2 separate regions of the Homo sapiens genome follow, and region 2 is linked to region 1. Evidence: fine-mapped expression QTL. A gene starts in region 1. The other region holds a variant in brackets. All regions are shown on one strand. Distances are between the middles of the regions.

Region 1 (4,387 bases):
ATTAGCCGGGCATCATGGCAGTCTCCTGTATTCTCAGCTACCTGGGAGGCTGAGGGAGGAGAATTGCTTGAACCCAGGAGGCGGAGGTTGCAGTGAGTCAAGATCGTGCCACTGCACTCCAGCCTGGGCAACAGAGCAAGACTCCATCTCAAAAAGAAAAAAAATAAATAATTCAATAAGTGAATGAACAGGAATTGGGGTCTCAAAGGGATTTAGCCTAGTAAGGGAAGTCACAAATGAGCTGAGATACGAAGATAGTGTTTGCCAGTGTGGGGAAGAGTGAAGAACCACCCAGGCAGTGGGCAGAGGGAAAAAAATGTTCAGGGCCGGGTGCGGTGGCTCACTTCTGTAATCCCAGCACTTTGGGAGGCCGAGGAGGGTGGATCACCTAAGGTTGGGAGTTCAAGACCAGCCTGGGCAACATGGTGAAACCCCCGTGTCTACTAAAAATACAAAAAATTACGCAGGTGTGGTGGTACATGCCTGTAATCCCAGCTACTCTGGAGGCAGAGGCACGAGAACTGCCTGAACCCAGAAGGCAGAGGTTGCAGTGAGCCGAGATTGCGCCACCGCACTCCAGCCTGGGGCGGTAGTGGGGGGGTATGGGGAGAAAGAGTGAGACTCTGCCTCAAAAAAAAAAAAAAAAAAAAAAAAAAGGCCGGGCACAGTGGCTCACGCCTGTAACCCCAACACTTTGGGAGGCCGAGGCGGGCGAATCACAAGGTCAGGAGATCGAGACCATCCTGGCTAACACGGTGAAACCCCGTCTCTACTAAAAAATACAAAAAATTAGCCGGGCGTGGTGGCGGGTACCTGTAGTCCCAGCTATTCGGGAGGCTGAGACAGGAGAATGGCGTGAACCCAGGAGGCAGAGCTTGCAGTGAGCCGAGATCGCGCCACTGCCCTCCAGCCTGGGCAACAGAGCAAGATTCCAGCTCAAAAAAAAAAAAAAAAGTTCAAAGGCCCCATGGAAGAAGGTAGGAGTATGGAATATACCAGAAATCTAAATTTAAAAAAAAATGTGGGGGTGACTGGAGAGGTAGGCTGAGAGTATGCTGTGGATGGGAATGGTGGCAGGAACGTATGCTGAGTGGAAGTCAGCAGCTCAGGCAAAAAAAAAGACGGTGCCAGTATGGATGGAGAGAAGCCAGTGGGCTTGATAGATCTACGCAGAGGCAAAATACACTTCACTTCGTGAGGGACTGGATGCCCAGGTAATGGACAATATAGGAGGAATGATTTCTCAATTTCTGGTTAGCACTGAACTGAATAGATAATGGTGCCATCCGTGGAGATAGGGATCAAGAGGCCCAGACTTAGAAAGATAAAGAATTTGCTTTGGGATACGTATACTGAACTTAAAACCCTCTGAAGCATGGAATAAGCAGACAGATGACGGAAGTTTGTCTTTTAGAGTAAAGGTGGCTCTGTACAAAGAAATTTGTGAGCAACTGACATATATTAATAGATGGCAATGGAATTGCCTTGGGGCCAGGCGCGGTGGTTCATGCCTGTAATTCCAGCATTTTGGGAGGCCGAGGCGGGCGGATAACTTGAGGTCTGGTGTTCGAGATCAGCCTGGCCAACATGATGAAACCCAGTCTCTAATAAAAACACAAAAAGTAGCCGAGTGTGGTGGCGCACACATGTAGTCCCAGCTACTCGGGAGGCTGAGACAGGAGACTCACTTGCACCCGGGAGACGGAGGTTGCAGTGAGCCGAGATCGCGCCTCTGCACTCCAGCCTGGGCGACAGTGAGTGTCGCCCAGGCTGGAGAAAAAAAAAGAAATTGCCTCGGGAGTCAAGAGGGCCTAGAGGGAGCCTTGATTCAACAAAAATTTACAAAGAGGGACTTACAAATAAGACGGGGATAGACCTGCCAAGCTGAGCCACTAAAAACCAAGGAAGAGGGTGTGACCTGAAGCAAGCAGGGCTTAAACGCAAACGCTGCTGAGAACTCAGGTAAGCTGAAAACGGAAAAGGGCTGGATTTAGCAACTTGGAGGCCACTGGTACCTTCAGCCAGGGTTTTCTACAGCGATCAAAGGGATGACTGGAGTGGGTTAAAGAGTTGATGAAAGGCGAGGAAAGGAAGTGGCTGAAACCAGACAAGAAGTTTGGCTGTGGGTGGGGAAAGGAGAAGAGACAGAAAGTGTCCGCAGGTGGAAGATGCAGAGAAAGGCAAGCGTTTATTTAGTTTGTTCTTACGTAGGAAAAATGTGAGCATGTTTTAAAGACGATCGAAAGAATGCTTTGAGGAGGGGGCGATGACACTAGAGGGACGCCCGGCGGGTCCCCACCGCCCCCCGCCATCTCCTCCCCTCGCGTTCATCCCCCGTCGCCCCGGGCTCCCCTCCCCCTCTCTACTCCGCGAGGCTCGGGGCCGCAGCCACCCCGGACCGCCGGCCCAGCCCCCGGCACCTCCTCACCGCAATGGCCCCCTCGCTCAGTTGGCCGACCATGGCTCCACCGCCAAGACTTCCCCGCGGACCCCGCAACAGCTCCAGCTTCCCCACCCGGGTCCCGCGCGCTGCGCAGTTATTGGCCCGAGAAGTTGCGCGCACCGCTCCCGCCCCCGACGTGCGCGCGGCTCAGGGGCGGGCCCGGGCGCTACGCAGCCGCCGCATTGGCCGAGGCGCGGCCCACGTGACCCACCCATGGTCCCAAGCGAGGCCTGGCGCGGGACGCCGGACGCGGTGCGGGGCGGAGCGGGGCGCCAAGGGGCGCGCCAGGAGCTGCGCGGGCGCTGGGAGGGAGACCAGGGCGCAGTTCCGGGCGCGTCTGAGCGGTTCTCGAGGCGTTCTCGCCTCGGTCTCTGGCGAGTGCACGGGTTGGTATCCCAGAGGAGGTTAAAGCTGTTCCTTGAGACCTCCGCTGCTAAATAGAGTCGCAGTAGTGACCCGATTCGTCCAGCAACGCGGGGCTGACTTCCCGCCTCCAAGCCCTGAGCTTGGCACCGTGGCGGTGGGGGGTGGGGGTGGGGGGTCTCCGAAAGGGAATCAGACCCGGCCCCCGTCCTTAGAGAAGAGGACAGTGTGTGGGGGCACTTTATGCCGTCAGTAACCCCACCTCCAGGTAGACGTGGTACAGGCCCCAAGGGTGTTGGAATCACAGCTGGGAAATCAGGGACGCCGTCCCGGAGGAGGTGCCATTTGAGCCGAGTCGAAGAACGTGTGGGAATTTTCCAGGTGGACTCCATAAGCCAGGGTAGGGTTGGTCCGGAAAGCATGAGTAGCCTATGCCAAAACATTGGAGAGTTGAAATAGCCTGGCAAGCCGGGGATAGCAATGAGTTGTTCAGTATGCAAGGGTGCATGCAGAGGAGTAAGTGACACCTGAGAATTAGAAAGTCAGACAAGGGTCAAGTAAGGATGGTTTTGTCCTGGGCTTCCTGGTATGCTTGGAGTAGCGTTGATGAATTTAAGGGCAGAGCACTGACTTCTGTCTCAGTGTTGGAGGCTGGATTGAAAGTGGGGAGTGGTGCCAATGGCATGGACATTAATTATAACACTCTAGGAAGAATGCCAGACGAGATGGTGAGGACTTAATCAGAACGCTGAACTATGTAAGAGAGGGAAATACCTTGTTAAATGAATAGTTGCTGGGGTGGGTGAGAAAGAAAAATCTGGGATGTGTCTCAGAGAAACTAGAGAGGGATCAGGCCGGGCGCGGTGGCTCACGCCTGTAATCCCAGCGCTTTGGGAGGCCAAGGCTGGCGGATCATCTGAGGTCAGGAGTTCGAGACCAGCCTGGCCAACATGGTGAAACCCCGTCTCTACTAAAAATACAAAAATTAGCCGGGCGTAGTTGCGCGCATCTGTAATCCCAGCTACTCGGAGGCTGAGGCAGGAGAATTGCTTGAACCTGGGAGGCGGAGGGTGCAGTGAGCCGAGATGGTGCCACTGCACTCCAGCCTGGGTGACAGAGCAAGACTCTGCCTCACAAAAAAAAAAAAAAGAGGATCTAAGAGCACAGATGGTAGCTATCTAGTCTGCTTCGTCTTTGTATAACCATCACCTGCATGGTGCCTGTGACAAAGTAGTCTTTCAGTAAATATTTCTGAATGGAAGGATGTTGAGTGAATTGCTGTGAGAAAATATAGATCCTTCCTTAGCATATAAACTAGAGGAAAAGACCACAAGAATTGATTTTATTGTTTCAGGCTTCCTTGAATGAAATCTTGATTTTCCTTTTTTTTTTTTTTCCGAGACAGAGTCTTGCTCTGTCACCCAGGCTGGAGTGCAATGGCGTGATCTCAGCTCACTGCAACCTCCGCCTCCCCAGTTCACGCAGTTCTCTTGCCTCAGCCTCCCGAGTAGCTGGGACTACAAGTGTGCGCCACCACACCTGGCTAATTTTTTTGTAGTTTTAGTAGAGACGGGGTTTCAC
Region 2 (4,387 bases), 71 kb before region 1:
ACACACTGGCTGGGCGCGGTGGCTCACGCCTGTAATCCCAGCACCTTGGGAGACCAAGGTGGGCGGATCACCTGAGGTCGAGAGTTTGAGACCAGCCTGACCAACATGGTCTCTACTAAAAATAGAAAATTAGCTGGGCGCGGTGGCATATACCTGTAAATCCCAGCTACTCGGGAGCCTGAGGCAGGAGAATTGCTTGAACCTGGGAGGCAGAGTTTGCAGTGAGCCAAGATCACGCCATTGCACTCCAGCCTGGGCAACAAGAGCGAAACTCCATCTCAAAAAAAAAAAAAAAAAAAAAAAAAGTCACATACTAAGGCTGGGCGTGGTGGCTCACGCCTGTAATCCCAGCACTTTGGGAGGCAGAGGCGGGCAGATCACGAGATCAGGAGATTGAGACCATCCTGGCTAACACGGTGAAACCCCGTCTCTACTAAAAATACAAAAAATAAGCTGGGCATGGTGGCGGGCGCCTGTAGTCCCAGCTATTTGGGAGGCTGAGGCAGGAGGATTGCTTGAACTTGGGAGGCAGAGGTTGCAGTGAGCCGAGATTGTGCCACTGCACTCTAGCCTGGGTAAGAGTGAAACTCCGTCTAAAAAACAAACAAACAAACAAACAAAAAGACCCCAAAAAATCAGCTGGGCGTGCAGTAGTCCCAGCTACTCAAGAGGCTGAGGCAGGAGAATCACTTAAACCCAGGAGGTGGTGGTTGCAGTGAGCCGAGATCGCACCACTGCACTCCAGCCTGGGCGACAGAGACTCCATCTCAAAAAATAAAGTCACATACTGACAGGCTGGAACCATGAAGACGAGTGGCTACATACTTTTCTCAATGACTTTTCAAAACCATCATTACAAATATAATTACAAGACTTAATAATCATTAATAGCTTTAGATAATCAGGTTGATTTATAGGCAAGTCAAATGTATTCTCAAGAGGCCTTCTTTGCCAGGGTGGTGGGAAACAAGAGTTTCGCCTCTTCATAGGCACAGCCCCCGTCTGTGTAGTAGGCAGGATGAAACCAGGGCTCCAAAGCCTTCTTTTTCCCTCCCCTCCCTACATTAATCTACCTGCTTCCAAGGAAGGACCTGCTCAAATTACCTACCAGCCCTTGGTGGTACACAGGGTTAGAGGAGTTATCCCTGGACTTAGGCAAAGAAAAATCAATGAGAGAACCTAACAGAACAAGAAAAGGCATGGATTGTCAGTGCCACAAAGCATAAACGCTTCTGCTCGTGAAATCTTGAATTTATAACAATTAGAAAAAGTATAAGCATCCTGCAAGAGTGAATTGGCTGAAAACACATCCAAAGAGCCAAACACCACTTAAAATTATTTATCTAAAGCTATTAATGATTAGTAAATCTTTTAATTATGTTTGTGATTTTTTTGTTTTGAGATGGAGTCTCCCTCAGTCGCTCAGGCTGGAGTGCCATGGTGTGATCTTGGCTCACTGCAGCCTCTGCCTCACGGGGAGGGACTCTCTTGCTTCAGCCTCCCGGGCAGCTGGGATTACAGGGGTGAGCCACCACACCCGGCTAATTTTTGTGTTTTTAGTAGAGATGTGGTTTCACCATGTTGGCCAGGCTGCTCTTGAACTCCTGATCACAAGTGATCCACCTGCCTTGGCCTCCCAAAGTGTGGGATTATAGGTGTGAGCCACTGCACCTGGCCTAATGGTGGTTCTGATGCAATTTTTATCAAAATAAAGATGCCCATCCTAGGAGAAAATCATTACAAAATGATATGCTTACTATGCTACCATTTTTAATTTAAACTCTATACACATAGATACATAGAAAAAACTAGCCAGGGCCAGGCACGGTGGCTCACACCTGTAATCCCAGCACTTTGGGAGGCCGAGGAGGGCGGATCACGAGGTCAGGAGATCGAGACCATCCTGGCTAACATGGTGAAACCCCATCTGTACTAAAAATACAAAAAATTAGCTGGGTACGGTGGCACATGCCTGTAGTCCCAACTACCAGGCTGTAGTCCAGCTACATGCCTGTAGTCCCAGCTACTTGGGAGGCCAAGGCAGGGGAATTGCTTGAACCCGGGAGGTGGAGGTTGCAGTGAGCTGAGATCGTGTCACCGCACTCCAGCCTGGCGACAGAGCAAGACTCTGTCTCAAAAAAAAAAAAAAAGAAGAAAAAAGTAGCCAGCTACACAAGTGTTTATTACTGGTTGGTGAAATCCTAAGTAATTTTATTTTTCTTTTGCCTTTTTGAGATGGAGTCTCGCTCAGTCGCCCAGGCTAGAGTGCAGTGGTG[C/T]GATCTCAGCTCACTGCAGCCTCTGCCTTCCAGGTTCAAGTGATTCTCCTGCCTCAGCTGCCCGAGTAGCTGGGATTACAGGAGCCCACCACCACACCTGGCTAATTTTTGTATTTTTAGTAGAGGTGGGGTTTCACTATGTTGGCCAGGCTAGTCTCAAACTCCTAACCTCAGGTGATCCACCTGCCTTGGCCTCCCAAAGTGCTGGGATTACAAGGGAGAGCCACCGCACCCACCCTTTCTCCCCCTTTTTTTGAGATAGGGTCTCGCTCTGTCGCCCAGGCTGGGGTGCAGTGGTGCAATCATGGCTCACTGCAGCCTTGACCTCCCACGGCTCAGGTGATTCTCCCACCTCAGCCTCCCAGGTAGCTGGGACTACAGGTGTGTGCCACCACGCCCAGCTAATTTTTATTTTTTTGTAGGGACGGGGGTCTCCTTATGTTACCCAGGCTGGTCTCGAACTCCTTGGCTCAAGCGATTTGCCCGCCTCAGCCTCCCAAAGTGTTGGGATTATAGGCATGAGCCACTGTGCCAGGCCAATTTTGTTTTTCTTAACTGTAGATTATTTTCCTAAAATAAACATGGAGGCCGGGCGCGGTGGCTCACACCTGTAATCCCAGCACTTTGGGAGGCCGAGGCAGGTGGATCACAAGGTCAGGAGTTCGAGACCATCCTGGCTAACACGGTGAAACCCCGTCTCTACTAAAAATACAGAAAATTAGCCAGGCATGGTGGCACATGCCTGTAGTCCCAGCTACTCAGGAGGCTGAGGCAGAATCGCTTGAACCTGGGAGGCGGAGGTTGCAGTGAGCTGAGATCGTGCCACTGCACTCCAGCCTGGGTGACAGAGCAAGACTCCGTCTCAAAATAAATAAACAAACAAACAAACAAATATGATTACTTGCATAAGAAAGTCAATAGTCCAAATTATCCTTTTTTTTCTTAAACATTTACTTAATGTCTTAATAACAAAAATACCAGTTTTTTTGAATAAGTGAAAATTAAACATCTATGCTCTCTTTTTGAGGAACCGATGACTTCCAAAGGTGTTTATAAAAGCCAGAACTCTACCAGCGGAGTGGATATAAGACTAAGAGTTAACAAACCACATAAAAGGTGGCCGGGGAGTGGGGGGAATCTTCCCTTTGAGACAAGGAAACAATCAGTTTACTAGGGGAATAGTGGCCTTCTAACAGGTGAAAAGAAGAAAAGGAGACCAAACAACCTGTTTCATCCTCTATAAATAAAACCTTGGGCGGCATATTGCCAAAGAAACATGAGTCAATATAAACCTTTACATACTGGGCGGCCAAACTTCACTTTTGGACAGTATATTAATTATGTAGTCAATAACCATGGGTTTCATTAGTGTATTAAATACCACGATCAATAGTATTTATACTTTTTGAAGACAGCCCACTCAGGAAACAGAAGTGGGGGAGGGGAACATTTTTGACCCTGCAGTTCAAAAAAGGAACAGCACGCGAGAGATTAGCAAGGTTTTAATGGAAAGCATAAAACACTGGAAATATGGACAGAAATCAGATTATTACCCTTTTATTTTTTTCCCTGCCCCTTTCACAATGAGACTGGAGGGAATTCAAGAACCACTTGAAATAAAGGCGAAATGATTAGATTTTTTTCTCCTAATTGCCTAACGCTGATGTCATGGTGTACGCAAAATCAACATTGATCTCTAAGTGAAAGAGGAGAAACAGAACAACATCAACAGCCTTTCGAGGTAAACTGTGGGCCAGAATCTATTTAGGCAACCCGCAGGGACCAAAATCTCTGAAAAGCCCAACAGTGGAGCCAGTTTCTGATGCTCCTCTGCTGGTGATCTGATCTTTGAGTGGGGAAATCTGTTAGAAACAGCCTCCTCGAGGGAGCCCTCCCCCTGGCACTGCCCCTGGGTTCCCAATCACATCCACGGAGACGTGCTGGTTTCATCACGCTGGCCACTGAGAAGGCGCGAGGACAGGTGTCAGCGTTCCCTGGACACGTCCTGTCCTGGTACCACGGCTGGTCAGGCCTCTTCACTGTGTGGACAGACACGTGGGGAGAGGAGGGAATGCTGGGAGTAGTAGGCATGAAAGACTGGTTACTGGGCT

What was found. PIP is the estimated chance that this variant, and not a neighbour inherited with it, causes the effect.
Region 2: its variant is fine-mapped to the expression of RPA1 in whole blood (INTERVAL, PIP above 0.99).

The regions. Positions count from the first base shown.
Region 1 is chr17:1,828,168-1,832,554 of GRCh38, reverse strand. RPA1 (replication protein A1) reads right to left here and starts at 2,550. Exons shown (of 17, transcript NM_002945.5): 1 at 2,429-2,550. The coding sequence starts at 2,461. It overlaps SMYD4 (SET and MYND domain containing 4), which reads left to right and starts at 2,653. Exons shown (of 11, transcript NM_052928.3): 1 at 2,653-2,829. RefSeq lists an enhancer at 1,154-1,654 and a silencer at 2,282-2,801.
Region 2 is chr17:1,898,930-1,903,316 of GRCh38, reverse strand. RPA1 (replication protein A1) reads right to left here. Exons shown (of 17, transcript NM_002945.5): 17 at 3,235-4,387. Among named protein-coding and RNA genes, the nearest start is that of RPA1, 71 kb to the right of the region's middle. The variant C/T (reference allele first, on the strand shown) is at 2,277.